Regions from separate parts of the Homo sapiens genome. Here all the other regions are linked to region 1. The links come from fine-mapping of genetic effects on gene expression. Tissue or cell type: whole blood. Region 1 holds a variant in brackets; each other region holds the start of a gene. Each region is shown on its reference strand, or each on the opposite one. Region 1 has its middle 18 kb from the start of SNORD141A. Region 2 holds the start of RET (ret proto-oncogene). Region 3 holds the start of MS4A4A (membrane spanning 4-domains A4A).

Region 1 (8,177 bases):
CCATCCATCCATCCATCCAACCATCCATCCATCCATCCATCCATCCATCCACCCATCTGTTCATCCATCCATCCATCCACACATCCACCATCCATCCATCCACCCATCCATCCATCTATCCATGCTTCCATCCATCCATCCAACCATCCATCCATCCATCATTCATCCATCCATCCACTCACCCAACCATCCATCTGTCCATCTGACAAAAAGCATTTCCTTAATGAGTACTGGGGAAGCAATGGAGAATTTCATAGAACGTGTCACACAATGACACAAATAGCTATTTCATGACAATTATGATCAACATCAGAGGGCAGAATTTCTGGGGGATTTGAGAGTCTATAACTGGCAAGGGGAGGTTTTCTTGTGGGGTGCATGTGGGTTGGGTTTGGGATGACGAAGATAAAGAATTGGTGAAGTGAGGAAACTGCCTTCCAAGTGGAGGGAACAGCATTCCCAGAGCCTCAGAGGCAGGCAAAGCCAGTCTGGAAGGAGGAAGGAGAGAATGTCGCTGGGATTCTGGTGCTGTTGCTCAGACACCCACCCCTAGGGAGAAGTGGCTCTCCCTGCAGATCTCCCACAACCCTGAAGGTGCCTCCCTGCTCCAGCCCAGAGCAGGGCTCCCTGGCCCGTCTGCCATCAGTTGAGGGGGCATTACCTGCTCTGTTTCTCTGCCTGGACTATGCATGAGCTGTTTAGGGCTGGGCTCTGGTTTTCAAGTCTTCATTCAGCAGAGACCACTGTGCACATGGGCTTTTTTTTTTTGGCGGGGGCGGGGGGAGGGGTTACTAAAATATACTTAATAAATTTTACCTTCTTAACTATTTCTAAGTGTACAGTTCAGTGGCATTGGGTACATTCACATTGTTGTGCAATCATCACCACCAGCCAACACCAGAACTTTTCCCAAACTGAAGCTCTGTACCCATTAGACACTAACTCCCCACTCCCCTCCCCCAGATCCTGCCAGCCACCATTCTACTTTCGATGAATTTGACTACTCTAGGGACCTCATATAAGTGGAATCATCCTGTGCTTGTGCTTTTGTGACTGGCCTGTTTCACTCAGCATGATGTCCTCAAGGTCCACGTGTGGCATGTGTCAGAGCTCCATTCCCTTTGATGGCCAAGTCATATTTCCTAGCATGGACAGGCCCCGTTTTGTTTACCCATCATCTGTGGATGGACACTTGGGGTGCCCACTTTTTGGCTGCTGGGGACGATGCTGCTTTGAAGCCCACCAGCTTTTGGTACCTCTTTGGTGGAGTACCTTCGGCCAACTACACACCCACTGAGCAGTTTGTATTTTGCAAAATTTTATAGTGAAGGGACTGCAGACGTCGTCTTGACCAACTCTCTTCCTTTTGCAGCTGAGTGGAACCAAGTCCACTGGCTGCGGCGCTTCCTCTTCGCCCAGCTCTCTGCACGGTGGCCAAGCTCTGGGCCCTTAGCTCCTGGCAGGACCATATGTCCCCTGATCGGACTTTTGTGACACCGGGGCGCCCCACCTCATGCCTGCAGTGGTGCAACCCACACTACTCTAGAAAGTTTATGTGCCTGCTGCACACCCTCCTTTCCCTAGCCCACCGCAGCCATCCCATGGTGTTGTGGGAAATGACCTCAGAGAGCTTCCCCAGACAATGGAGAGTCTTTAGAATGCTGGGCAGCTGGACCCTTGGCCCTGGATACCAAGAGCTATGCAGGCACTTATCCCAAAGCCACCCCCATTCCAGCCAGATGCTGGTCCCCAACCCTGGGAAACAGAGACCAGGACCTGTGCCACTCCTGCTTGGCATGCACCTGGACTCCCCAGGACAGCCCTGCGGGTGGGTTTTCTTATCTCACTTTACAGACAGCATACGGGGCTAAAAAGTAGAGAAATGACTTGCTTAGAGCACCAGGGCCCAGCACAGAGTTCAGCTTCAAAGCCATCATTTCATTGTCCTCCACCAGCAGAGGAAGCCTAGTGACCGCCCCTTCCTACCCCCAGCCTCATCCCCACAATCACAGGGTCCCCTGCTGACAAGTGGCTCCCAGGGCAGGTCTCCCAGCCTAGCAGATCTCCTGGCTTGGAGACCCAGGATTTCTCCTGGCAAGGTCTCTAGGGCAGATGAGGCTGAGCTGCCTTCAAGTCCACCCAGGCCTCCCCAGAGGAGGCCCCCCTCCCAGGAATGGCATCCCAGCTCCTCCCTCCTCTGGGCTGGCTTCATGGGGGCAGACACCTTTACTTCTGCAACACAGCTGGGCTGCAGTCGTACAAGGGATCATGGTTTGCAGGCTGAGCTGGCAGAGGGACACCCCAGGGTGAAGGGCATTTGTGGGGCATCCTGTCATTGAACTTTCTCAGAAGGCCCTGCCCTTCTCTTTTTCCCTCCAAGGCAGTTGTTGGGATGGCAACATCAATGCTGGCCGTGGCACTTCCTCTTTGGCCAGCTCTGCACAGTGGCCGAGCTGTGGGCCCTCAGCTCCTGGCAGGGCCCTGTGTCCCCTGACCAGACTTCCGTGAGGCCAGGCCTCCCCACCCCACACCTGCAGCAGTGCAGCCCATGCTGCTCTAGGAGGTTTATCTGCCAGAGAGGCTTTGAGGGTGGGGAATGAGACCCTTATCTCCCTGCCAGGGGCCTGCCCTACAGTTAGGGCTTTGTAATCTGACATTGTGATTTTTCACTCTTGTTTTTCCCCTCATGGAGGGAAGATTTGCTGAATCACCCAGGGTGAGGTGGTTGGAGGAGGAGGGGGGCACCAGCTGGGGGGCAGTGATAAGTCTCAGGCCGGGCTGAGGGGCGCTGGGGAGCCACCGGGAGGAAACCCTTAACCGTGACGGTTTCCAGCTAAGATTGTAGGCTTCTAAAGAGCTGCCTTGGGGAGGCTGAGCTCAGGGATCCTGAACCTTCCTTCCTGAGGAGTGCAGAGGAGGGCCGGGGGTGCCAGGCAAGCCCCGTAGACATCCCACGAGCCAGCAGGGATGGGAAGGCAGGGACCGTGACCGTGGCAATGACCAAAGATGCATGTGGCTGGCTGCCAAGCCCCAACAGGATAGCCCCCAGGACCCCACTAGGTCACCCTTGCTTTGCACACTGGCCTCCTGAAGCCCTGAGAAGGCGCTGGCTAGAGCACTGCTCCCTAACAGGTTGGGCAAGAGCTGGGGGCAGGGGAGGCCTCTTGTCTCCCCCAGGGCTTTGTGCCCCGCTGTTTTCTTGGCTTGGGGCAGCCCTCTGCACTTCCAACAGATCAAATTCTTTTTGTCTTGCAAATGTC[G/A]ACTTCCCTCATTAGACTTCCCTTAACCCCAGGGCTGGGCTTAGTAACCCCCTTGGGCCTCCAGACCCCCCACAGCGTCTCCTCTCCTGGGTCTTGCCAAGGCCCTGCCCAGAGTGGACGCCCAGCAAATACTTGTTGAACAGACTTTGTACCCTGCGAGAAGTGGTCTTCTATTGGCACTAAGTCTGGGGTCTACAAAGTGGGAAGAAATCCCCAGAGGAGCTGGGCTGGCCCCCAGGAATGCCCTCTGTTGCAGAGAGGACCCAGCTGCTGGGAGTGGTAGACCCCAGCCTGACCTCCAGGTGCCCGACCCTCAGCCTCTGCTGGGGCTGGCCACACAGTAGAGACAGCTGTCCACCAGTGATCTCATGGTAGTGTACAGAGATGGGGTCGTGCTGGGCGCAGGGGGAGGGCTTGGAGCAGAAAGGCCAGGCCGGACGGTGCCTGAGGCTTCCCCAGGATGCTCTCTACGCGACTGACTTCTGATTCCCCTCAGAGTCCGGTGGGCAACCGCAGCTCCGGGGAAGATGGGTGATTGACACCCCTGAGTCAGTGGCCACATCCCTTGCTGCTCCCAAAAGGGGCTCCTGGGGCAGGAAGAGCTGCCCACGGTGGTCGCTTCGCTCCCTTCCTGCTGCCCAGCTGAGCTCAGAGATAAGTCCTTGCTGGGCTGAGAGAGGCCTGGGGCTTAGGCCTTCCCCAGAAATCATGTTCGAGTTCCCCATGTGGAGGAAGGGGCCTGACGGCCACGATAACCCCTCTATTTTTAAGAGATCCGGGAGGAAGTTCCAAGTCACCCTTGGCAGAAATAGCTCTGGGCTTCAGCCTGGTGTCTGTAGCTCCAGCTGTCGGCAGGGACAGCCGAGGAGTGCAGCAGGATTCAGCTCATCACAGCATGGGGGGGCCCACCTGCTCCCCACCTGCTCCCCAACCCCAGACTGGGAGGACCTGTGGCCCTGCAGGTCCAGCCCAGAACCTGGGCTCCAAGGTCAGAGCTTTTGGCAATGAAATAACAACTACATTTATTGTGTGCCTACCCCGCACCCTGAGCCATTCACAGCGTTCACAGGAAAGTGCTGTGATCGTGCCACAAACGTGTCAGAGGGAAGAGAACTGCCTGGGAAGGCATCCGGAGGAGGTGAGGCTTGAGCTGTGCCCAGGACAGTTAGGAGAGAGCTGAGCAAATCGGTAGGAGGAAAAGAGCCACTTGGGTAGAGGGGACAGAAAGAGCAGAGGTTGGGAGTCAAGAGGTGTCTACAGGAGGCTGAGGCAGGAGGATCATTTGAAGCCAGGACTAACTAGGCAACAGAGTGAGACCTCATCACTACAAAAAGTACAAAATTAGCCTGGAGTGGTGGTGAGTACCTGTGGTCCCAGCTATTCTGGAAGCCAAGGCAGCAGGATGGCTTGAAGCCAGGAGTTCAAGACAAGTCTGGGCAACACAGTGAGACCTTGTCTGCACAAAAAAAAGAAAAAGAAACTGGCTGAGCGAAGTGGCTCACACCTGTAATCCCAGCACTTTGAGAGGCTGAGGTGGGCAGATTGCTTGAGCCCAGGAGTATGAGCCCAGGCTGGCAACATGGCTAAACCCTGTCTAATACAAAAATTAGCTGGTTATGTTGGCACATGCCTGTACTCTCAGCTACTCGGGAGGCTGAGGTGGGAGGATCACTTGAGCCCAGGAGGTTGAGGCTGCAGTGAGCTGTGATCATGCCCCTGCACTCCAGCCTGGGTGACAGAGTGAGATCCTCTCTCAACAAACAAACAAACAAACAAAAAATTTTAAAGAAAGAAAGAAAAGAAAAGAAAAAGAAACTGAGGCCCAGAGGGCAGTGTCTGACCAAAGCCACCCAGCCAAGCAGAGTGACATCCCTCGGTCTCCTGACTCCATCCAGGGCTGTCCTTCCACAACCCCCTCTCTTGTGCAGGGAAACTCAGTGCTTCTTAATGAGGTCTCTCTGGCCACCCATCTAACTTGGTGATCTCCACGTCATCAACACCCCCACACCTTTCTTTTTTTTTTTTTTTTTTTGAGACAGAGTCTCACTCTGTCACCCAGGCTGGATGGCAGTGGCACGATCTCAGCTCACTGCAACCTCTGCCTCACAGGTTCAAGTGATTCTCCTGCCTCAGCCCCCAGAGTAGCTGGGATTACAGGCACCGGCTACCACGCCCTGCTAACTTTTTTTTTTTTTTTTTTTTTTGAGATGGGGTTTCACTCTTGTTGCCCAGGCTGGAGTGCAATGGCACGATCTCAGCTCACCGCAACCTCTGCCTCCTGGGTTCAAGTGATTCTCCTGCCTCAGCCTCCCGAGTAGCTGGGATTACAGGCATGCACCACCATGCCAGGCTAATTTTGTATTTTTAGTAGAGACAGGGTTTCTCCATGTTGGTCAGGCTGGTCTCGAACTCCCGACCTCAGGTGATCCGCCTGCCTCAGCCTCCCAAAGTGCTGGGATGACAAGTGTGAGCCACCGCACCTGGCCTAATTTTTGTATTTTTAATAGTTATGGGTTTTCGCCATGTTGGTCAGGCTGGTCTCGAACTCCTGACCTCAGGTGATCCACCCCTTTCTGCCTCCCAAGTGCAGGGATTACAGGCACGGGCCACCACGCCCGGCTTCTCTGCATTCTGTTTCTCCTGGCTTTGTTTAGTCTCTGCATCCCCGCTGAGCTCCAAGAGGGCGGGGATTTCGTCTGTTTTCCCCTCGGCCCGATCCTCACCACCTGTGGCAGGCACTCGATAGATATAGGAGTTGATGAATGAAAGATTTCTGACCTGTCAGGGTGGTCTTTGTGCCTCTGTGAGGGTCCTGGGTGCAGTCTCTCATACATGACTCCAGGGGACACACTGCTGGCTCTGCAGACACTGGCATGGCCCTCTGCTTGCACCCCAGGCTGGCAGAGGTGGGCACCTACAGACTGATCCTGGGCTGGGACCGTTCCCACCAGGTCAGAGAGCCTTGGTAGCAATGCCTTTTCCTTCTCTGCCTCTTAAAACAAATGAACAAATCACCTTTCTTTCCCCACGCCCTCCCCCAAAACATTGTTGTTATAGAAACCACGGAAAACTGTATATATGTATATAAAAGGGACTTAGGTGGGCGTGGTGGCTCATATCTGTAATCCCAGCACTTTGGGAGGCCGAGGCAGGTGGATCACTTGAGGTTAGGAGTTTGAGACCAGCCTGACCAACACGGTGAAACCCCATCTCTACTAAAAGTACAAAAATTAGCCAGGCATGGCAGTGGGTACCTGTAATCCCAGCTACCCAGGGAGGCTGAGGCAGGAGAATCGCTTGAACCCAGGAGGTGGAGGCTGCAGTGAGCCAAGATCACGCCATTGCACTCCAGCCTGGGTGACAGAGTGAGACTCCATCTCAACAAAACAAAACAAAAACAAACAAACAAAAGGACTTAAAAATCCACCCCACAAAGATAACCCTGTGGATGCCGGCGCCTGCCTCCCCCCGCCAGGTGGCTGTGCACAGCTGAGGACCAGGCTGCCCTGTGGCTGCACTTAGGGCTGGGAGGCATTGCCTCATGTGCGACTTTTCCTTGCAGATCACGAAGCACTTGTCGGACCTCCAGACCTCAGGGTGGGCGTGGAACCTCCCAGCTTTCCCTTCTCTTCCTGCTCTTCTTCCTCCTGGTCTCCTGGGTCCTTGCCCCCCTGCCTGCTCTCCTGCTCACTCTCAGACTCAGTTTCCCCAGTCATGAGGAGGGGTGTAATGTTGGAAAGCCGTGCCTCCCTGGATGGAGACAAGTGCCAGGCTGGACACCCCAGAGGGACTCACAAAAGATAACCTGAGCCTGACTCTCACCCGAGGCCTTGGGGCTTGGGGTTAGGGAGGAAAAGGGTTGGGGTGGGATGGAATGGGGTTCAAGTAATTAAAGAAGCAGCCCCCGGCTGCCTGGCCCTCCTGCTCCCAGGGATTTCCACGTGCATCCTGGAGCCCCAGGACCTTCCAGGAAAGGGAGTTTTTTCCCTAGGTCTTGCGGAAGAGCTGAGTAGTGGCAGCATTGTCTGGTGATCTGGAAGGCTATGCCTGGGTTTGATGGGGTCTTCAGCCTGTGCCTGCCCGGGGCTGATTCCCCACTGCAGTGGCTCAAGGCTGGGACGTCAAGGACCCCTGAGGAACCTCGGAGGCCTCTTCCTCCCCAGCTTGTCCTTTGAGTGAAGTGGGTGGAAGTCTCTCTCTCTCTCTCTTTCTCTCTCTCTGTCTGTGTCTGTCTCTCTCCCTCACTCTCTCTCTCTCTCCCTCCTCTGGTCCCTTTCTCCCGCTCTCTGGGCCACCAGGCCCCTGATAACACTTGGAAGGCGCTATCGGCTCAGGAGTGCCCTCCTGCTTGGCCCATGGTTCTACTCCACACCGACGGTTGGCAGCCGGCACCGTGCGATAAACTTATCAGGCCAAACCTGAGCATGCCGGGTCGGAACATGCCCTGCCTCAGATTTCCCTCCCGCAGCATCCCTGCAGCCCCCATCCCCCGGGAACCCTGGGTCCTGCCTGTCTCCGGGCCAGGCCCAACTCCAGCTAGACACCCATGGAGGTGGTCCCGGACAGCCCCTGACCCAGACCAGAGGAAGAGCTGGGGACCCTGTGAGAAGTCACAGGTCCAGTGTCCACCCCACTGTTCCCAAACCAGGCTGTCACTCTACCTACCTTGGAGGCCCTGCCCCAGCTGCTAAGAAGGAGTCGGGAGGTTGCATACCCATCCTAAACTTACTGGGGACCTAGTAGGCCCTGGCCCCAAAGGATAGGACCCAGCATCTGCCAGGAGGTGGCTCACAGAGTAGCAGGGTGGGGGCGAGACAGCCAGCACTTGTAAAGTAAAAAGTCACCTGCCTGCAAGGCTCTGCACTGCACTAGAGGGGCCTGAAGGGACCTGCAGCTTTGAGGGAGGGGACAGAGACA
Region 2 (8,177 bases), not on the chromosome of region 1:
ATCTGCACCGCCACTGGCAGCAAGATGCCTTCCTGCCATCCACAGAGCACACACAGTCGGCCCTTCTGCTGGCACAGCCATGCCTGGTGCTCCTCCCCAGACCCATAGGACTCCCAGACATCAACTAAAGCTGACGAGACCCAGAGAGTATCTCAGCGTCTGTGCATGGTGCCACACATTACTCTGGGATCTGGGCTGGGATGTCCTGAGGGCACCTGGAGCCCGAGGTGGGGGGACTCACCAGTGGGTGGGCAGGCTCAGGGCAACCTCCCTGGAAGCCCTCCTTAGCCCCACCCTGGACCCACACCACTGGCCCAGAGAACGGGCTGGAGCAAGCCAGAGGGCCAGGGCTGGGGAGCTCCCGCATCCTCTCTACCGGTTCGAGTCCATAGGCTATGAGAACCTGTTTCCTCACCTGTGAAATGGGCCAAGACCATGACCCTTGCAGACTTGTTGGAAAAGATGAAGTGAGTAGGCACAGCACAGGGGCAGTGCACTGTGAGCCCCCATGGGGTGCTACTGCTGGTATTAGCCTTATCCAGTTAAGACGAGGGGACCTAGAGGGTCTTCGGCCAGGCTGCAGAGGGGGAAGGTCTCAGGGGAGATGGCAGCTTCCGGGCCTTCCCTTCCCCTTGGCACCCCAGGTTCCATTTTAACAGATATCATAATTTTTAATTGGTTTTCTCCTCCACTGGCTAAAAGGCTATTAGCTCCCCGCTAGGTGATCGCATCCCATTTTCTTCACACCACCAAGGAAACAGTGATTTCCTCAGCCTGTCCCTAAAGTGATTCTGCAGAAGAAAGGCAATTTAGTGAATCAGCTCAATGCACTTCCCCATTTGCTCTCTGCTTGCAGGCCCCCAGCAGGCACAGCCCACCAGTGAGGGCTGCAGGCAGCTTCTGGAGGCCAGACAGGGTTAGTGAGCTGGAGTGGAGGAGGAAGCAAGCCAGGCCCAGGTGAACCTGGTGAAGCCTCTGGCCAGAGAAAGGGGAGAAGGAAAAGGATGAAGCAGGGGGAGCTGTACCCCTGGCCTGAGCTGCCCGCGCTGATACCTGGTGCTTCAGGCAGGGGTGGGCTGCCTAGGCCCTCTGCAGAGGGTGGTCTGGCAGCTTGGATCCGGGCCCTGCCAAGTCACAGTGCCCAGCTCTTCCATGCTGGGAACAGAAGGCCCCGGGGCCCAGGGGCAGAGAGGGAATGTCCTTCCTTGCTGCAAAACAGGACCCAAGAAGTCAGGCCAGGAAGACAAGAGACAAGAGGCTTGCTGAGGAGCTGTGGGAGGTTGAGGTGCAGGGTCAGCCTGGGACCTGGGGGGAACCCCAGAAGCTGAGACTCAGTTTCCTCATCCAAGCAACGGGGACAGCTGTATCTGTGTTGAGCAATGAAATGCCAGAAACCTTTAAGAGCAACTTTTAAATGAATGTAACTTTTAGATGGAGGTTCTCTCACTCTGGTTCCAGCATACCTGGGGCTGACAGGCTATGCCCTGCAGGTATGAGGAGTGTGTGTCCCTATATACACACGTGGCGTCCCTGTGTGTATGAGTGATGAGAGGGGCTGGGGTCCCTGTGTGGACGTGGGTGAGGCAGGGTGTGAAGGAACCACGCTGTGCATGTCCACAGCCTTGGCAGCAAGTGCTGTGAGAAGGGGCAGGAGTGTGTCTTGGTGATCCAGTGTGAGTGTGCATGTGTGAGCTGTGGAAGAACCCTCATCCTCTAGAGACCCAGTCTGTGCCTGTCATCAGGCCCAGCCACTAAAGTGCAGCGTCCGCAAGAGGGCGCTTGAGGCCGAGCTGTCCCCTTGGGGTGGTTGGGGAGCACCGAGGGGCTCACTGGGGCGGTCCTTGGCAGCTCCAAGAGTGCGGCTCGAACCTCCGGAGCTGTGGCTCCTGGGAAAGAGCTCTGCAGCCTCTTCAAAGGCCCCAGCTGTCTACTCCAGGGAGTGGGGCTGCCTCTTCACTCCCAGTGCCTCCAACTGTGGTGTCCGGGTTATCCCAGGGGCTAGGGGCTCACCATCTCTGGATTCGGGAAGCTGTCTGTGGGCCAGGGGTCTGGGCACGGAAAGCTACCTGCATGCCTGCTGAGTGCCACAAGCCGGCCCCCAGAGCCTGGCCCCCACAGCCTCACTGGCCACCCCAACTGAACGCAAGGCTGTGGAAGGGTGTGGGGAAGTCCTCTGCCCAGCACACCAGCAGCAGTTCACACCTGGCCCCCTGCCCACAACCTCAAAGCCAAAGCCACAGCCCAGAATCCCAAGACAGCGTCAGAGCGCCTTGTTTGCTTCTGCCCCGTGTCTTCCCCCTGCAGCACTGGGACCCCAAAGTCCTAACACTCAGAAAAGATAGAAAGGCAAGGGCTTCTCCCCTGTCCCTCGCTAGGTGGACTGGGGACCCGCTCTGGCCTCAGCATATGCTGAGCTGAGGCGCAGGTCACACAAATGAAGTCTCAGGCAGGCCTGGAAACTCAGTTTGTGCAGGGCCTGGGGCCAGAGACAGGGTGACTGACCATGGCTTCTTCTGTTCCCAAAGGCTGTGGGGAGAGAAAGCCCTTTGTAAGGAGTGAGGGAGGATGGCCAGGGCTCCTTCCCTCTTAGAGGGAAACTTGGTTCATACACAAGCGCTTGGAGGGGATCAAGTCAGGGCCAGTTTGAGGGACACTTAAACGCGTGCCAAGGGGTCAAAGATTCCACAGCCTTGCGGCTCACTCTGCCAGAGTTTGGGTGGGGTCGATGACCATCTTTGCAAGGCCACACCTAATGCTGGGATCCTAAGGCACCTGAGGTTTCACCAGGCCCAGCACCAACGCTGGCTGGCGGCGCAAACCCCTGCCCCACCCCAAGCCCTGGGCCTCCTATGGCCGCATCTTCAGCATCTCTGCCAGGCAGCGCCACACGACTCCAGGGCTGCCGGGTGGGACGCCTATCACGGCGGCCCCTCGGGGGGAGCCACCCCAGAAACCACGGTTTTTAGGTGTTTAAAGACAGGGCGGCAAAAACGCACGAGGGAAAAGCAATCTTTTCAAAAGAGCCTCCGAATCCCTCGGCTGGCCAGGACGGCAGAGCTGGGGGAGGAACGCACGGACGCTGAGCGGGAAAAGGAAACCAGGACGGAGCCGTCTCCTGCCGAAACAGAACTCTCCGCACGAATCGCGGGCTTTCGGGGCTCCCTGACCCGTCCGCCAGGTCGGCCCCGAAACGGCTGTCCCGTTTGCTCCAGGACGCGGCTTTGGCGCAGGGCGCGGCCAGATTGAGACCTGCGGCTATGGCTAGGGTTCTGAGCACCGACCCCCGCGGCCCGGCCCGCGCTCCGCTCCCGCCCGAGACCCGCCCAGCCCCGGCCCGAGGCGCCCGGCCCGAGGCGTCCTGCCCTTCGCCCGCCGCCCGCCGCAGCCACTGCGCTCCCAGCCGAGGCCGGGTGGCCGGCGACCGCACAGCCCGCTGCCCACGGCAAACAGAAAGGCGCTTCTGAACGCGCCCGCTCCGCTGCTCGGCGCCAACTTCGCCCTGGCCCCTGCGGGAGCCGGCGGCCGGCAGAACTCACCTTTGCCTAGCAGCGGCAGCAGCAGCAGCAACAGCAGACGCAGCCCCGCGGCACCGGACGTCGCCTTCGCCATCGCCCGTGCGCGCTGGGGCCACGGCTGGAGGGACTGCGGCTAGGGCCGGCGGGTCTGGATGGCGGGTGCGGCGCTCAGTCTGGCCGCCCCATCCCCGCCCGGGGCGCGGCGGACGCGACGGACACTGGGGGCGCGACGCACGTTCCGGGGCACTCAGCGCTGCTGCGCGCCCTGCTTCGGTCGCGGGACTGAAGCGAGGTAAGCGCCGGCTGCGCCGGAGGAGCGGGTAGGGGCGGGGCGGGGCGGGGGCGGTCCAGGGGTGGGCCAGGCGGGGCCGGAGGCGGGTGGGGTGCGGGAAGGGGCGGGGCTCCAGTGCTTGCTCTGGCTGCGCGGGGTGCGGCCGGGGCGCGGCGCGTGTAGGAGCTCAGTGCGGGACGCGCGGCTTGGGCCGGGTGGGGCTTGGGGAGGAGCGGGGTGCGGGAGCGGGGTGCGGCCGAAAAGGGCCCGGCAGGAGCCGGGTGCGGACCCCGAGGTGCGCGGCGGGGATGGAACCCAGGAGCCCGGGTCCGCGCACCTACGCAGAGCCGCTCTTCCTACCCGGTGCGCGCCCGCTTGCAGTCCCTGCCTTTTGCCCTTTCCGCTGCACAGAGAGGGCAGGGATGCTACGCGGGATGCAGGTCTGGCCGACTGGCTCGGGGTGCGACCCCGCGGACTCAGAGAAGGGCGCCCCGCCTCCAGGCTCTCCGCGGAGCGCTTGCTGCGCCATTTCTCAGAGGCGAGAGGCGCAGTGGGAGCGCGGCCTCTGCTGGGGCCGGAGGCAGGAGGCGGGGAAGAGCTGAGCAGGGGAAGAGAGGCAGAATAGCCTTTTTCAGCATCCTGGGGTAGTAGAGAGGGTAGGGTCCTGGAAGGGCAGTTTGTGATTCCCCCCTCCAGCACTGGTCCAACCCTTGGAAACCGGAAACTGGCTCCGGCGTCCTTTCAGAGACCTGGTGCTGGTGGCCCTTGCATCCCTTACACAGGAGAACTCTCAGGAGATGGGCTGGCAGAGTCGGAGAGCGAGTAGCGAGGAGGAGGAAAGAATCCAATTTTCCCCCAAAGAAATGATGGAAATGATGCGCATAAACACATTTACCCCTAATAGGGAGCAGCAACTGGACCTGAGAAGGGGTTCTGGGTGAGGTTGGATGTGGGCTCAGTGGGGAAGTCCTCTGTTCTCGCCCCATCCCCGGCTGCTTTTTGAGGTCTGGCCTGCACTTAGGCGCAGAGGGATGGAAGAAGGGAAGCCCATGGGCCCTTGAGGAGGAAAAGCCAGGGAACCTGGGCCCAGGGCACCCTTGAGCCAGCCGCTCCCTTGCTTGCTGTGTGCAGAACCCCGCCCTCTTGCCTGGCTGAGCTCAGGGCTGAATAAGTGATCTGCACATCACTGCAGATATGAAGTCAAAGTGAAGTCACCCTCACAGGCAGGAGGGGGAGCTGCCAAGACAGAGGCTGGCTTGCACTCAGCCAACCGTGATGTCCAGACCTGGCTTGCTGAGGGGCAGGTGGCCGGGGCACAGGCCTGCCAGCCCAGGAGAGACACTGTGGGCCACTGGACTCCGGCTGCCTGCCACACCCTTCCAGTTTATGGAGCTAGAGTTGGCCACAAGGGGCTCCCTTGGGTTCAGACAGGTTCCATCTCTGGTGCCAGTGGCTACCTAGGCTACACACTCAGGCCTGTGCCCAGGGAAGGGACCTGATAGGTAGGGAGGGGCTGGGGGCATCTTTTGGCTACAGACAAGCTCCTGTGATTGCCTCCTAGGTGAATGAAGAGAGAAGTGGGTAGGCTTAAATAGCCCCACCCCTGCACCTCCCGGGGACCACCCTGGCCAGCCCTTGGCTGACATTGATGTCTGGCTGGGCTCTGTGTGGCCATCTTAAGGGGCCATCTGGGGCTGTGCTCCTGCCTAGCCTACCTTAGGCCTTTCCACGCTCTCGCTCCACCCTCACCCTTGGGGGTCCTGAGTGAACACCTGACACTATGAGAGGGTGTCATTTACTCCTTGGAAAAAGGTCTGGGGGGCCCTCACATGGGTGTACCCTGTACACATGCATACATGCATACACCTGTGTTCCCATACGTGGACACACACGCACACAGATGCATACCTCCCTGCTACGTGCACGCCCAGGGATCTGACCAAAGGGTCGCTCAGCAGAGGACAGTTGTGAGGCCCAGAGCCTGCTGGCCTCAGGGACTGCGGGGAAAGGAGATTCAGCCCTGCCTGGGTGTAGGCTCAGTATCCAGAACATCAGGCAGCAGGAAGGAGCTCCTTGCCCAGCAGAGGGGAAGCGAGGCCACCCCCTGAGGTCTCACAAGGGGAGGTGGGGGCCAGGTGAAGTGCAAAGCAGACGTGCCGGTCTTTGGCTGCCCAGGAGTCCTGGCCCTGGCTTCTCTCAGTCCATGGGGTGGGGAGGGCCTGCAGGGGGCTCTGCCTCTCTTTCTTGACTCCCCTTAGTCATCTCTCTGAGCCTCAGTTTCCCCAGCTATAAACATCTCCCTTTCAGAAGAAGGGGTGAAACTAGAAAGAGGGGTGCATGTGAGGGTAGAGCCCAGTGCCCGACAAACAGGAAGCCCTTAATAAGTTGTAGCCATTGGGCCTTCCTGGGCCTGGGCTCGGGCACCCTGGCCACACTGCCCTGCTGAGGGTCGCGGGCTCTCTGGGAGCTGGAGGAGGGCACATCACAGTGTGGTCAGTGCTTCCTGTCCCTGCCCGCAGGTCCCCTTGGAGAATCTTCAGGGCAGCTTTTATGAAGACACACATCCTGGGTCCCCCACTCCCTAAAAATCCATGTTAAAAAAAAAGTTCAGGGGCCAGGCTAAGGGCTCACACCTGTAATCCCAGTACTTTGGGAGGCCAAGGCAAGAAGATCACTTGAGGCCAGGAGTTCGAGACCAGCCTGGGCAGCACAGTGAGACGCTATCTCTAAGAAAAAAAAAAAAATTCCCCAAGAGGTTCTGGTGCAGGCATCTGCTTGGAGTGATTAGACCTGAGTTTGAATTTTGCCATTCATAGTTGTGTGACATTGCATACATTACTCCTCAGCTTCAGTTTTGTCATCTCTCAAATGGGGACTGAAACAGTGTCCTTCCCTGGTGACTGTGAGGAGATGGTATTTTCAAGGCTCTGCCCCAGTGCAGGGTAAGATGCTCAGTGGGCAGGCGGCTCACACCATCTTCCTGTAGCATGTGAGAACTTGGAGGTCATTCATTGCTTCTGAGCAGGTGAAGATTACCTGGAGCACCTCAGGTCTGACCCCAAAGCACCAAAACGCAGCACAGGGAAGGGAGGGAGGAGGGAAACCCATCATGGACAGAGATCTGGGCCATGCCTGTGCAGGTTTGCCTGGCGGGAGGCGGGCGGGATGCTCTGTGTCCTCTGACCCAGGTGACATGGGGGTCTCTGCCTGCACTGAGAAGCATGGTTGGAGTGAGGCTGAGTGCAGTGACAGGAAACTCTGGCTCTGGGGGTGCCTCGTGACTTGCAGGTAGGGGGAAACACATTCAAGAGCGCAGCTCGGTCCTGGTGATACTGGAAGGCTGGGTGGCATTCCTGGAACTGCTGACCGAGGCCTCTCAGAGTGGGCGTGGGCAGGGGTCCAGGTCCCTCCCATGGGCAGTGTGACATGGTGGTTGGAAGCACAGACTCTGAGGCTGGCTGTGTGCACTGTTAGCAAAGTGGTCGGTGCCTCAGTTTCCCATCTGTCTGCCACTGCCCTCTGCTCCCCCATCGGGCTATTGAGGTGAGGGGCAGGTCTACTGCTCCCCACGGTTTGCCTCCCTGGCCTTGCTGTTGGTGCCCTCCAGGGCAGCTGCGAGGAGGAAGCCAGTGACCACCAGCTAGCTCTCAGGGCACTCAGAGGGGCTGCTCAGCCAGCCCACCCTATGCCAAATATGCTGCTTCCATGAGCATGCTCACAGAACACCTGGCCTGGGCCTGCAGGGTGTGGCTGTGCAGGACAGGCTTTACCTAACTGTGCAGGTCCTGCCTGCCTGTGGGCCTCAGGTGCCCTCAGGGGTGTTTGCAGAAGAGCCCTCAACCTGGCCTGGGAGAAGACCCCTTTTGCATCCTCCCTGGGGCCTGATTAGGAGCCGGGTGCCCGAACAAAAGCAACAGGGGCCTACATATCCATCAGAGACCCTGGGGGGTTCAGAGAAAGCCCACCTCCTCCCACCAGCCTGCCCACCTACTCCCACTAACCTATCATTATCACTTTGCCCACTTCAGTTTTCCATGTCCCCACACTTTGTTCTCTTGTGAATTTCCTTCCCTCGCCCTCCTTTCTTCTTTCCCCTCTGCCCGTCTTCTCCTCCCCTTCCCTTGGAGGAATCTCCATCCTTTTCGCTCAGCACCAGAGCCAGGCTAGCCACACCACTCAGCAGCTTCTGTGGTCCTCTCTGGGCCTCGGTGTCATCCTCTGTGACATGAGAGCAATAACATGGGCACTGCCTTGAGGGTAAAGCCCAATGATGCATCAGTGGGCTCAGCAGACAGTGGCAGTGTTTCCTGCCCCTCTGCCAGGGTTTTCTCTCCTACAGGGGGCTGTCTAGGTGTGGCCTGGGGCAGTAGCATGGTGGGAAGGCTGCAGGG
Region 3 (8,177 bases), not on the chromosome of region 1:
ATTACAGGCCTGTGCCACCACACCCAGCTAATTTTTGTATTTTTTGTAGAGATGGGGTTTCTCTATGTTACCCAAGCTGGTCTCAAACTCCAGGGCTCAAGTGATCTTCCCGTCTCAGCATCCAGTAGTGCTGGGATTACAAGAGTGAGCCACCATGCCCAAACTTAAACTTACAGATTTTTAACACAGACAATGTAGTTAATTGCTGGGCCTTCCACCAAGAAAGGACACTTGCAGTCCCATAGCCCTCTTAGGGTTTCTGTTACGTTGAGTTCTTGCCACTCTTGATTAGAGGCTGCTTGTAGGGTTCTGAAATAATTTCCACATACTTTTCCTGTAACACCTTACTTTTTTGAAAGAGAAATTTTGAGGAAGGCCGAATATCTTCTATTTAGGTCTTCTAATGTTTGAAATAAAAATTACCTCTTCTCCCTTCTGGGGCAGTTGGTAAATTGTTAATTTATGGGCTTTATTAGAATGACTTTAAATTAAGCCCAGAGGGGGACAGTTCTCTGATGTTTAACAAAATTTGCGAGTACAAATTAAATTTAAGACAAAAAATAAGGCCTGCTATTTTATTTTACCCCTTTGATCCATATCTAAATTTTGTGTTCTGCTCAGAGGATGCTAAAGTGTCGATATAGGTCTGAATGTACCTACTCCATAGCATGTGAATGTAACCCACCTCATAAACTCCATTATCATTAGAACAGAGACTGCAAGAGGAAGAGGAGAGCCTCTAGGCCCGCCTCTGCATAGTCTTGTATCTAACTTACTGAGAGCAAAAAAGGAGGACAATCCTGACTCTTCTGACCAATCTTTGAGACAAACTGCAAAAGAGAGGAAGAGTCAACCTCTGACCACATGGTACCATGAAAAACATGCTCTCACCAATTATATAGACCCCTCTTATCTGCTTTTCTATTTTCCCCAAGACCGGAGAAGGTTGGAGCAGGGTCATGACAGGAGTAAAGTCCCTGTCTAGCATGTCCTTGAGTGGCAGGAAGTGTTAAAGGAAGTTTATGTTTTATACTTCAAGCCAGAAATGAGTAAGTGATAGTAGGAATACCAGTAATAATAGTCAATATGTATTTAGCATTTATTAAGTGACACGCACTGGTTTAAATGTTTTATATGTGTTATTTCATCATTAAATTCCCCTGAGAGATATATTCTATTATTCACAGGACAGAATTATAGAAACACAAGATTAAGTAACTTGAGTAAACAGTGGCAGGGCCAAAATTTAAATCCAGGTGATGTAATTCCAGAACTCCTTTGCTTAAGGGGATCCACTAAACTAGTCTGGTGAATGGAAGATCTCTTGTTTGCACAAAAACTTGTACAATTAATTTTCTTAGCAGCATTATCTATAATAGCTAAAAGGTAGAAACCACCCAATTTGGAATAAGTTAGATAACAAGACTACGTAGAGGTGGGCCAAGAGGCCCTTGTCTTCCTCTTGCAGTCTCTGTTCCAATGATAATGGAATTTGTGAGGTGGTTTGCATTTATATGCGATGGAGTAGGTATATTCAGACCTATATATACACTTTAGCACTTCCTAGACAGAACACAAAATTTAGATTTGGAGCATATGGCTAAAATAAAATAGGTCTTATTTTTGGTCTTACATTTAATCCACATCCTCAAATTTTGTTACACTTAAGGGAATTGTCCTTCTCTGGGCTTAATTTAAAGTCATTCTAATAAAGCCCATAAATTGACAATTTACCTACTTGTCCCAGAAGGGAGAAGAGGTTATTTTTATTTCAAACCTTAGAAGACCTAAATAGAAGACATCCAGTCTTCCTCAAAATTTCCCTTTCAAAAAAGTAAGGTGGCGCAAATCTTCCTATGTGGAGATTATTTCAGAGCCCTGTAAGTAGTTGCTAATCAAGAGTGGCAAGAGCTAAAGGGAACAGGAACCCTAAGAGGGCTATGAAATTACAAGTGTCCTTTCTTGGTGGAAGGTCCAGCAATTAACTACACTATCCATGTTAAAAATCTGGAAGTTTAAAGCTGGGCATTTTGACTCAATCCTGTAATCCCAGCAGTATAGGAGGCCAAGGTGGGAGGACCGCTGGAGCCCAGGAGTTTGAGATCAGACTGGGGAACATGGTGAAACCCCATCTCTACACAAAATGCAAAAATTAGCTGGGTGTGGTGGTGGGCGCCTGTAATCCCAGCTACTCAGGAGGCTGAGGCCCAGGCTGCAGTAAGCCACAATGGCATCAGGGTACTCCAGCCTGGGCAACACAGTGAGACCCTGTCTCAAAAATATCTGATAGTTTGTCATTGGTTCCTTCCATTGCCTACCCTCTATGCTCAATCAATCTCATTCTAATCCTACACAACCATTTTTCAACTCTGTGTATTTCTCCCATCTTCTCAAGGCAAGCCATTATTCTATTTTTATCAGAAGTATTCATTATAGCCTCTGAATGTTCCCTGTGTCCATTTGTGGCTTTGGATATTCAATCCACCACTGATGTTGTAGCCAGAATGATCAAATACAAAAACAATTGAGTCACCATCCCCTTTAAAAGCCTTCTTTTATATTTCACCACCCTTAGCATAAAGTTAAAATTTTTAATGTTGATAACAAAAGCTCGGCTACTTCAGCACAAATCTATTGTAGTCTTACCTCGAATCTCTCTCCTTTTAATTTTTAAAGCTCCAAGTATATTTGACTTATTTAAGTTGTTCCAAAGACGTAATTTCATTCCTATATTGAGACATCTGCATATATTGAAACCATTTGCAGGAATGTTCCACCCCTCTTGTGACCACCTTGTAAGAACAAAAACAAACCCACCACATCATCTAATCTTCTCACACATGAACAGCATTTTATAGTCTCTATCTTCTCTCAGACACTATTCCCCCACTTCCCCACCATTGCCCACATGTGGATTAGTCAGCCTATGACGGTAAATAAGGGTTTAAGAAATGTGTTATGTTCCTTCTACATTGCAAAAGTCAAAGTTATTTGGAAAGTGACTAAAGATGATTCTTCTTAGTCCATCTAAATGTGTACTTTATTCTTCTTTAATGTAAAAGAACCTCTGCCTCAATCTCTCAGGCACACCTTCAGACTGAGAATTTAGGACATGTTGGGTCTGTCTTATCAAACGCACTGGTGGTTCTCTCTCTGTGTTTAGTGCCTCTCTGGTAAGACTGTAAGCTTCCTCGAGGGCAGAGCAATTATATCAAAATAAAGCTTGTAACTGACTCCTATGCTTTCCCATAATTCTTTGGTAACATAGGTCAGGTTCTGGTCATTCAAGGCTGGTGCTTTGTCATTCTAAGAAACTCTGGCCATAAATTCATATAACTGCCTCCTCTTTTTCCACCACAGAAATCCTTGTGTTAATTATCTACGGCACATGAAGTCCCCAAGAACAAAAACGTGTTTACCATCCAGGGCTTGACTTCTCTATATTCAATTTTTTTTTTAACTGCTGAGAATATTGGATGCATATGAGGGACATTTCTTCCAGGTTGGAGAAGAATTTAAACCTTGGTTTTGCCACATCACCTATATGCATCAGGCTCTTAAGAAATACAATGTCTTTCCCCCACACCCCTGATAAAGAGGTGGGGAAACCCAGACCACCCTTCCCTCTTCTATTGGCCCCAGTCACCTTGTGGATCAGCAGCACCACCAGTCTCTTATTTCCTCATTTTTATGTCACCATCCTCCTCATGGGTCACAATTGCAAGGAGAGAGCATGAGGAGAGTGGTACAAACAGCCATCCGTTTTTCTTGGCAAAGTTGTCAAATAGACTAGAAACCCAAAATGAGGCCTGAATCTGGATGGTTTTAGAAGGATGATGGGGATGCAGAAGTGGTGGCATGGGAAGGGAAAAGGGGGAAAGGCCCGGGCTAGGAACCAAGAATTCTGTTTTTGTTTTTGTTTTTGTTTTTCTCCCAGCCCTTTTGTTAACTTGTGTGATTCTGGGTACATTATTTCCCTTTTATTGGCTTCTTTTACTTCATCTGGGGAAAGATTACAATGGCCACGACCACTTACAAGCTTCTTTCTTATCCTAAGAATGCTAAAAGTCTACAAGGTGTTTTTCATTAGCAGATTTTATCATGAGCAGCCTCAGTTTACTGCCTGGGTGCCCCATGAATAGTGCCAAAGACCACTGGAGAACTAGGTCAGGCCACAGCCCATCTAAATGTACAAGGCTGGGGACCCTGCCTGTGCCCTACTCCATGTACACCAAATTCTGCATGTGATACATCTGTTCTTAAATCCTGAGTTATAAAAATAACCAGTCAGACACAGAGAATAAAGACCACAGAAGAAGGGCATTAACAGTAGATGAGGTAACTAGTCAAAGGTTTAAAATGTTGCTTTCAGTGTTTTGATATCCTGAAGACTCAGGGGACAAAAGTAACTAAACAACCTTATCCAGCCTCCAATGTCAGCCTTTAGGAGGCTTTTCTAACTCCTATCGACTGTAGCAAAAACTGTTCCTCATCCCCCCACCGAATGCACATTTAAAGGTGCACTCAACCCACCCCAACCCTGAATACCAGCTTGGGTCATGGGAAGTGGCCTCATTATTCTTCTCATTCCCCTCCCAGAAATTCTTAACCCAGGAAGTGAAACAAGCCATCAGCCCGAAAGCCTAGGAAGGCAAGTCCCTGGACCTACCTTTCTTCAGGCCTGCAATGTCTGCTGTAGGTCTGATGCATGCAGGGCTCTGGGCAAGTTCCTCAAAGTTCTTTGGTCTAGACCCAATCAACTTCCCCCACTCCACACCTCACTCAGTTTAAATCTGCATTCCTCTTCTAGCAGATGTTTGGAACCTTAAAGGCTGTGCTGAGAATTTCTGAGACGCACAGCTAGTTCCTCTTTTATATCGGAAGCATTAACTGATTTTGTGTTCCCAATATGGGTGTGGATGTCTATTTTGAAATTTGCTGAAAAAGCAGGGGCTGCCTGATACAGTCTTTCCTATGAAAATAATACTGCTAATTACTGTGGATATCAGTGGTAGAGGATTTACTGTATGCCAGACTCTCTTCAAAAGTCGTTATATAAACAAGTAAATGGTATTTTGTAAATACCCCCTTTCACAGGGTCACACATTTCCACAGTACTCTTGTCTTCCTGGAGCACTACTATTACTATTTTATTAGGTTGGTGCAAAAGTAATTGCAGTTTTTGCCATTATTTTATGGCCAAAATCACAATTAACTTTTGCACCAACCTTAATATACACAACTTAAATGTTTTATTTACATGAAATTCCACCTTTAGAGATTCATCAGGAGTGGCCATAAAATGGCAACAAGTTGGTTGTATGGCAATAAAACAACACCTTTCTAAGTGAAGGAAGCAGCTGGTATCATAGAACGAGCTGGTCTTTGACTAAGATCAAACCAATGGCAAACATTTCTTGCATGGCCCTGTTAATCTCCTGAACCTAAGATTCATTTGTAAAATAAAATAATGCCTACTTTACATGGAGGAGGAAAGCAAAGTGGTGTGCAGTTTTCATTCATTCAGCATTTTCTTTAGAAAAACTACTATAAGCCAAGCAGTGTGCCGTGTGCTTCTGAAAAAATGGTAAAAAATAATTTTCACTCAAAGAGTTTATAGACTACTTGGAAAAACAGACCAGTAAATAAATCACTACAATCCATTACTATCAGTTATCTGCAAGGTAAAGTGGCAATACAGATGAGTAAATACATCATTACAACCCATTGTAATCAGTGATCTGCAAGGTAAAGTAGGATATCCTAAGAGAGCTCATAGGAGGATCAATGAACCCAACATTGGGTAGGCAGAGGAGACTTCCTAGATAAGGGGACATCTAATTGGAGACCTGATGAATGAGCAAAAGACACACAAATGGAAAGGGAATGAAGGAAGGTAATATTATTATTTCTATTTTTCAGAAGAAGAAACTGAAACTCAGAGATATTCGTATAGCTGGTATAGATGAGATTGAAATCCAGTTTTACTTAATTCCAAAAACTATGTGGTCTATAATCTGAAATTACGATTCTCAAAATTAAAATAGATTATATTTCAGAAATATTGTCCTGGTTTCAGACAACAGGAATAAATAATAATAAAATCAGAGAATTAGGCTCAAGGTAGAGGCAGTTCTCTAGGGAAGGGATGATGGTTACTGAACTACCTGTGATGCTAGTGAAGTTGGAGAGAATGAATGGATTTGAAAGATGCTTAGGAACAAGAAATGACAGTACTTGTTGGTATAATGGATGTGTAAATCAGGAGAAAAAACAGGAAAGGATGACACTCAGATTCTGGGTTAGGAAACTGAATGAGTGATAGAGCCATTCAGTAAGGCAATAGACATGGACCAGGACAGAACTGCAGGAACAAATAGTAAAATTTTGAACGTATTTGATCAGAGTTGTGTAGGGACCTTCAAATAAAGTTGACAAGAAGTGGATAACTGGCAGGAGCTAGGGAATGAGAACATGGCTATAGAGGTAAACCCAACAGCTCTTCGCCCAGAGGGATGAGGTCACCCAGGCTTGTGGGTGGAGGCAGAAAACGTCAAACCCTTTTTCTAGAGGATAGAGACAGTATAATCAGAAATAAGATTTCCCAGAGGATTATGAAAAAGAGGGTAAGGAAGATAGCAGGCAAACTCGGAAAATGTGGCATTGCAGAAGACAAGGGTACAGAGTTTCATGACTTCCTAAGAGAGGTTGAAATTCTGGACTAAGGACAGGCATCAGTCTCTCCTCCCACTCCATATGGTATGAAATGAGACAGTATCAGGTTATTATTAGCAGATAACAATTTCAAGAGAACAATAACATGAAATTTGACAGAGAAATATATATATTCTATATATATAGAATATATATCCTATTATATATAATAGAATATCTATATATTATATATAATTATATATCATATACAGATATATTATATATAATAGATATAATATATAATATATATTATATAATAGAATATATATTATATTATAATAGAATATATTATATATATAATAGAATGTATCTCTATATAATATGTTATATTATATATTAACAGAGACTGGGTTTCACCATTTTGGCCAGGCTGTTCTCGAACTCCAGATCTCAAGTAATATACCCTCCTCAGCCTCCCAAAGTGCTGGGATTACAGGCGTGAGCCACTGCACCCGGCCTTGAGCTGGATTTTGAATCCTATGCCCTATGTGAGCTGGAGCAAGTTGCTTAGGCTTTCTGCACCTCAGTTTACTCATCTGTAAAATATAGATAGTAATATGTCATAGCGTTGTTGAAAGGGTTATATTAGGTAATATAAATAAATTACTTATCATTTTTTGAGCACAGAAATATTTCAGTAGGAAGAAATCATTCAATTATTATTAAATACTTCAGAGAGACAAGCTAACAACAGTAAAATGTTCACTGGATTTAGCCTGAAAGAAATCATTAGTGCCCCCTTCCCCAGTTCCCAATCAATTTTCTTTCTCCAGAAGCAAGTATTTAAATTTTAATTGTTTCTTTTTGTGTTGACTCCATATTTCTAAGTGAATGATTTTAAATACTGTTCTAATTTTTGGTTTTATATATTATGCACTAACCTCCTACTACTGAAGACAATAGACTAACCCCTATATCCTTCATTTTTACCCTGGACACACCTTCCCACCATAACACTTCCTTTTCCCTCATTCTCCCATATAGTTTTATCACGATTTTTTAGTTAACTCAATTTATAGTATTTAAATCATTAATGGCTAATTCATTATGAGTGTTATGATTACGCTTCCTTTTGACCATTTTTCTCTCTGAAGTTAGTAACTGCCTCATGTTTCATATGCTGTTTTCTACATACCTGAAAATAAGTTGTTTTAAATACTCCACCATAAATGTAAATCTCAGTGTCTATAGACCCACAGGTAATTGATCTGTTTCATTAGTATTTTTCTGTATACACTCTCCCTTCCTGGCGCCTTATATTCTCCTATTCCAGTTAGGACTGGTTATACTCTAGGCCTTCAGGGATCTTAATTCACTATTCTCAGGGAATTCACTTACTTAAGTATTCACTATTGATATGGTTTGGCAGTGTCCCCACCAAATTTCATCTTGAATTGTAGCTACCATCATTCCCACATGTTGTGGGAGGGAACCACTGGGAGATAATTGAATCATGGGGGCGT

Evidence for each region. PIP is the estimated chance that this variant, and not a neighbour inherited with it, causes the effect. A credible set is the group of variants that fine-mapping cannot tell apart.
Region 2: RET starts here. The variant in region 1 is the best candidate, but not a certain one, in a credible set for the expression of RET in whole blood (TOPMed, PIP 0.50).
Region 3: it holds the start of MS4A4A, and the variant in region 1 is the best candidate, but not a certain one, in a credible set for the expression of MS4A4A in whole blood (TOPMed, PIP 0.81).

The regions. Positions count from the first base shown.
Region 1 is chr9:132,998,835-133,007,011 of GRCh38, reverse strand. No RefSeq gene overlaps it. Among named protein-coding and RNA genes, the nearest start is that of SNORD141A, 18 kb to the left of the region's middle. RefSeq lists enhancers at 1,167-2,038, 2,516-2,810, 2,685-2,829, 2,913-3,786, 5,622-6,122 and cis regulatory regions at 2,749-2,766, 2,234-3,185, 7,284-8,177. The variant G/A (reference allele first, on the strand shown) is at 3,261.
Region 2 is chr10:43,072,691-43,080,867 of GRCh38, reverse strand. It overlaps RET (ret proto-oncogene), which reads right to left and starts at 3,799. Exons shown (of 20, transcript NM_020975.6): 1 at 3,537-3,799. The coding sequence starts at 3,609. RefSeq lists enhancers at 2,454-3,444, 3,753-4,610, 4,476-4,742, 6,825-6,986, 7,197-7,488 and 1 more and promoters at 3,577-3,875, 3,577-4,260.
Region 3 is chr11:60,277,209-60,285,385 of GRCh38, reverse strand. MS4A4A (membrane spanning 4-domains A4A) reads right to left here and starts at 4,720. Exons shown (of 7, transcript NM_148975.3): 1 at 4,670-4,720. The coding sequence starts at 4,710. RefSeq lists a silencer at 4,786-4,835.